Linked DNA regions of Homo sapiens: region 2 is linked to region 1. The links come from fine-mapping of genetic effects on gene expression. Tissue or cell type: thyroid. Region 1 holds a variant in brackets; the other region holds the start of a gene. All regions are shown on one strand. Distances are from middle to middle.

Region 1 (2,890 bases):
TCTCAGCACCATGCAGTCATTAATGCATCTATGGTCACAGCTACATTACAGGGCAAGTACTTCTATGATTCCCATGTTATCGATGTGGCCACTGAGGCCCAAAGAGGTCACATGACTTGCCCCAGGTCACACAGCTGATGAATGGTGGAGCTAGAGTTAGAAGCAGGCACCCTGGCTGCTAGAGTCCATAGCCTCTATCATGCTGCTCCATGCAGATCATAATTCAGTGTAGTGGGAACATGAAGGAAAGGGAGTTGCGGGTGGATGGAGGAATTTGGGGCCAGAGAAGTAGGTGAGGGACCGGCAGACAGGGCCATGCCAGCCACCTAAGTGGCTTAGGCATATCTTAATGGCAGTGGGAAGTCATTGAAGGACTTAGCTGAGAAAGGGACGGAATTTAGATATTTGGAAAATAGCAGAGGTCAAGGAAGAGCTCAGATTATGAGTGAATCCAGGTCGAGAAGCCTTTAAAATTCATTATCCTCAAGGAAACATGGGTTGGTTCCCTTTGTATTCCAGGGAAAGGTGTGAGATTCTAGGTTTCTTAAAAAATCTCCCTGGACATCCCTCCAGCCTCTCTCCCAGCAAGAGTCAGCAGGTCACCCATCAGCTGGGGACAAAATTAGAACAAAGTAGGAAAAAGTGGGCATCATCGCTGCATTTCAGAGGGAGTCTTCTCTGTGGCCAGCCCCTGAGTATTATTTAGCCAGCTCGGTATAGTTAGCTTTAAAATAACAGAATTGTTTAGTAGCAGAAAAATACAGTTATTAGCTCTGATTATAGGGGAATCCGATTGAGCCACGAATGTGATCTGCCTGTTTTATTCCTAACTGGTAATTTCAAACGGCCTCCTTTCCTCAAATTTTAGGAAAGGAGGAACCCAAACCTTGCGAGCTGCTCCGCATTGTTTATCTGTTATTTTTAAACAAATCAAACGGAAATTGATCTGCCTTGTTGGGAACGCAGTTGCTGCCAAATGGCCTGGCTCTCCTACAGGTTTTTGTGGGAACACCATCAGTTAGCCGTGATCGCTTCAATTGTGAATAATCAGGGAACTAATTACGGGCCTCCTGGAGTTGTCCTCACCAGCAGGTAACATAATTCACTGCTAAGTGGGGTGAAAATGAGCCTTCCATGCTTTGGAGCAGGAAGTCATTTACCTTGCTGGACATTTTGACACTTCTCTGTTTCATGCATCCCAGAAGGAAGGAAGCTGGGGTCTGGTGAGCTTCAACTTTGCAGACAGCCCAGCCCATCTACCCATCCCTTCTCCTTCTTGGCAAATACTTATCAAGGACCTAAGTTGTCACACACTTCCAGACGGAGCCTACAGCCTAGCAGGTATCCTAGATAGTAAGTAACTTTAAAAGATCATTTTTGTTGTTTTGTTCTGTTTTTGACAGAGTCTACGTCTGTCACCCAGACTGGAGTGCAGTGGGGCCATCTGGCTCACTGCAACCTCCGCCTCCCAGGTTCGAGTGATTCTCCTGCTTCAGTAGCTCCTGAGTAGCTAGGACTGCAGGCG[T/C]GTGCCACCACGCCTGGGTAATTTTTTGTATTTTTAGTGGAGACAGGGTTTCGCTTTGTTAGCCAGGATGGTCTCAATCTCCTGACCTCAAGTGATCCGCCCGCCTTGGCCTCCCAAAGTGCTGGGATTACAGGTGTGAGCCAGTGTACCCAGCCAGCATCCATTCCTTTTTTTTTTTGAGAAGGAGTTTTGTTCTGTCAACCAGGCTGGAGTGTACCGGCATGATCTTGGCTCACTGCAACCTCCTCCCACTGAGTTCAAGCTATTCTCCTGCCTCAGCCTCCCGAGTAGCTGGGATTACAGGTGCCCGCCACCACGCCCATCTAATTCTTGTATTTTTAGTGGAGACGGGGTTTCCCCATGTTGGTCAGGCTGGTCTCAAACCCCTAACCTCAGGTGACCCACCTTCCTCAGCCTCCCAAAGTGCTGGGATTACAGACGTGAGCCACCATGCCCGTCCCAACATCTGCTTTTAAATAGAGATAAATTGCCATTGTTGAACCAAACCAGGTCATGCGGCAAAAAGAGTCAAGATTCAAGGAGTTAAAAGTCTGTCTTAGCCCAGCACAAGTTAGCTTTGTGGTTACAAACATGGCCTGGGGAGGGAGGCAGTGTGGGTTCAAGACCCAGTTCCAGTACTGTCTAACTGTCTGAGCATGGGTCAGGTAGCGTGTTTCCTAAGGGTTAGTTTATTTTTCTCTAGAAGGGAAAAGAACACAGCACTTTCTTATGTTTTGGGGAAGATTGAATAAGACTGTCTATCCACACATGGCTGAATTCCTGATTTGTGGTGGTGGCGGTTATAAGCTGAGCAGGTTTGGGCAAGTCAGGATGTTCCAAAGCCTCAGGTATGAATGGTCCTGACCTTCCAGCTGGACTGCTTAGATAATCAAATGGGCCAGTGTGCATGAAAACCTCTTTACAGCCGCAACAGGCAACACAAAGTACTGTTGCTCCATGTGTGTGTGAAGACGTGGTGCGGAAGGTCTCCTGCTCACAAAGGGGAGGTTTTATGGTTTAAAACAGACTTGCTTTCTAGGCTGCTGCCACATCTTTTGGGATAATGAGTGATATCCTGGGAAACTGGAGTTGGATGCTTTTTGCCTACATTCATAAGGCAGGTTGAATAAAATAATTGTTATGGCCGGGTGTGGTGGCTCATGCCTATAATCCCAGCGCTTTGGGAGGCCAAGGCGGGCAGATTACAAGGCCAGGAGATCAAGACCATCCTGGCCAACATAGTGAAACCCCGTCTCTACTAAACATACAAAAATTAGCTGGGCCTAATGACGTGTGCCTATAATCCCAGCTGCTCGGGAGGCTGAGGCAGGAGAATCGCTTGAACCCAGGAGGTGAAGTTGCAGT
Region 2 (2,909 bases), 83 kb after region 1:
TCTTGGCCTCCCAAAGTGCTGCGATTACAGGCATGAGCCACCGCGCCCAGGCCTATCTCACTATATTTTAATGATTAACATCCACATCAGGCTTCTCTAGACCTCAGGCTTGCTGAAGATGAGATTAAACCTCATTCACCTTTGGATGCGTGCACCTGGCCCAGTGTCTGACACAAGCTTTGTATTCACGGATGCTTGTGGAGTGGATGAAACAATCTCTTCCCACTCCCTGCCTCATTGTCTGATGAGCCTTCATTACACTCCACTTTCTTCTCTTTGTAAATTAGGATGAGGTGAAAAAGCACAGCAGACAAGATGCGAAGCATTCACGCCAAGTCCTCAATTCACAAACTGATTTGATCTGCTGTTGTATTCCCAGAGTGCTAGGTCCCGTATGGGACACCAACGCCATCCCATATGCTCACTGTTCTGCGCTGCTGTGTATAAAGCCCTGGGCAAGAGGACAAGGGAGGGAAAAACCAGAAAGACTGAGTCAGAGAAGGCTCGGGATGAAATTTGAGTCCATTGGGATCATTCTGCCTAAACGACAGAGGAGAAAGCTTGGGCTCAGGGAGGAGTCCTCCTCCTCCTGGCTCAAGGTCACCGGGACAGACCAGTCAGGATGGGAAAGAACTCCACTTTCAAGAGCAAGACCTGTTTCCCCAGGACCTGGGCCCTGTGCAGACAGGAAGGGGGACTTCAGGATGGATGGGGAAAAGGACACGCTGGGAGGCTGCGGGGCCAGCCTTTGGGGCTTGCATCCTGCGAAGGTTGAGTAACTCCACGGGTCTCCCTTTTGCCGCTATACCACTTGCCAACTGGGTTTGGAGTCTCTTGGCTTGTGAGTCCTCAGGGACCAGAGAAGTGACTCAGTGAACACTTAGTACATCGTTGGCACCGGGGATTGTGTGTGATTCAGGAGTCACTCACAGAGCTTGTGCTGATTAACTCCAGAAACTCACCCAAAGCCTCCTCCCCACCCCTTCAAGCCCAGGATGAAGGGATCAGACTGTGGCTCTGACACTCCTGAAATGTTTCTCACGTGTCCACCTGCCAACCGGTCTGGTACCGACAGAAGATCCCTGGACCGCGAACTCCGGGGCTAGGAGCTTCCTCCACGCACTGCCTCCTTCCAGCGGCCCACAGGGAAAACAGGACCTCGGGACCCCCTCTCTTCCTGACCTCCCCTGGATTCTGAGCGGGCCCACCCTCAACCAAAGGTCCCCTGTTTCGCGGCCCCTGCCTCTCTTTTTCCGCCTTGGGAATTGTCCCCCTCGCCCCCCATCCTACTCCCACTACGTCCTGAGGGGTGTCTGTCTTCTCTGATCGCCCCCACCCCCTTCCTTTCCCTCCTCCTTTTCCTCCCTCGGCTCCTCCCCCAGGCCCCGCCCTCTCCGCCTCGGCCCGCGTCCCCCCGGCGCCTTCCCCATCACCCTCCCCTCCAGCGGGGACAGGGGTGTGGGGAGGGGGGCGGCGGCGGCGGCCCGAGCGGGAGCCCGAGCGGCAGCCGGCGGCCGCGGGAGCTGCGGGGAGCGCGGGGGCGGCCCGGAGCGTGCCGGGGTCCCCGCGCCTCGCTCGCCGGCCGCGCTCCGAAGATGGTGGCGGCGCCGTGCGCCCGGAGGCTGGCCCGGCGCTCGCACTCGGCGCTGCTCGCGGCGCTCACGGTGCTGCTGCTGCAGACGCTGGTCGTGTGGAATTTCAGCAGCCTCGACTCCGGGGCCGGGGAGCGCCGCGGGGGCGCAGCGGTCGGCGGCGGGGAGCAGCCGCCCCCGGCCCCGGCCCCGCGCCGGGAGCGCCGGGACCTGCCCGCCGAGCCGGCTGCAGCCCGAGGAGGAGGAGGAGGCGGCGGCGGAGGAGGAGGAGGACGGGGGCCCCAGGCGCGGGCGCGGGGAGGCGGCCCCGGAGAACCGCGGGGACAGCAGCCGGCCAGCCGGGGGGCACTGCCCGCCCGGGCTCTGGTAAGATGCCCTTTCGGCTCGCGCCCCGCGGCGAGGGAGGGAGGAAGGCAGCCCGACCCCACGCCCCCCTAGCCCTTGAACTCGGTCATCAGACTGGGACTCTGCAAGCCTACCGACTCCACATCGCCTCTTGCCCCGGGAAGCCGGGTGGGGTCCCTGCCAAGGCTCAGGGGTCGTGGGCTGCCCCTTTCAGAGTCTGAGCACGGACCCCTTGGGGTCTGGGGGAAGTTTTCTCCAGCGGGGGCGCTTTGGGGGTTACCGGAGCCTGGCTGGGTTCCTGTTCCCCATCACTCTTGCTGGGGACCCCAGGTGACTTGCTCCGTGCGTGTAGGTCTTGGTGACTCGCTCCCTGCCTGAGTGAGTGGATCTCCCCGGATCCTCAGCCGCTGTTCCTGGGCGGTTGTCGCAGCAGCATCTCTCTGGTTTTTGCCGAGCTGGGTGCAGACAGTTGAGCCCTCTGTTCGTCCTGGCCTGCGATGAGGGCTGAGCTGGGCGTCCCAAGTCCCCGACCATGCCCCTGAATCAATACTCAGTCCGGGGTGTCTGGTCTTACTTTGGGTCTTCTGTTTCTCTTCTCTGGATGTTTGAGCCTTCCGTCTTCACCTTCTCTGTCTCTAACCTTGCCGTCTCCCATGCCCTCTGTGACTTTATCTCCTCCCCATCTCCAGTTTCAGGGCATGGCTCCTTCTCCTAGCTGGTTGTCTCTGTCTTTCTGTCTTGTTGCGGCCGGTTCAGGTCACCAGCTGTGTGTCCGACCACACCGTCAGGGCTTCCACTCCTATGGGATTACTTTGCCCTTCGTGGGTGTGAACAGTCAGGGCTCTGAAACTGTTTTTTCCGCAGATCTGGGGCCATCTGGGTGGCTGGGTGGGGAACTGACTTGTCTTCCTACCCTGTCCCTAACTTCTCCAGGGATACCTTTCCCACCTTCTCTGGGCTGCCTTGCCCAGC

Evidence for each region. PIP is the estimated chance that this variant, and not a neighbour inherited with it, causes the effect.
Region 2: XYLT1 starts here. The variant in region 1 is fine-mapped to the expression of XYLT1 in thyroid (GTEx, PIP above 0.99).

What each region holds. Positions count from the first base shown.
Region 1 is chr16:17,551,997-17,554,886 of GRCh38, reverse strand. No RefSeq gene overlaps it. Among named protein-coding and RNA genes, the nearest start is that of XYLT1, 82 kb to the right of the region's middle. The variant T/C (reference allele first, on the strand shown) is at 1,526.
Region 2 is chr16:17,469,483-17,472,391 of GRCh38, reverse strand. It overlaps XYLT1 (xylosyltransferase 1), which reads left to right and starts at 1,432. Exons shown (of 12, transcript NM_022166.4): 1 at 1,432-1,958. The coding sequence starts at 1,596. It overlaps LOC107987234 (a long non-coding RNA gene), which reads left to right and starts at 1,965. Exons shown (of 2, transcript XR_001752091.2): 1 at 1,965-2,909. It overlaps LOC105371106 (a long non-coding RNA gene), which reads left to right. Exons shown (of 3, transcript XR_933144.3): 3 at 288-1,385. RefSeq lists enhancers at 937-1,438, 2,213-2,262, 2,383-2,652.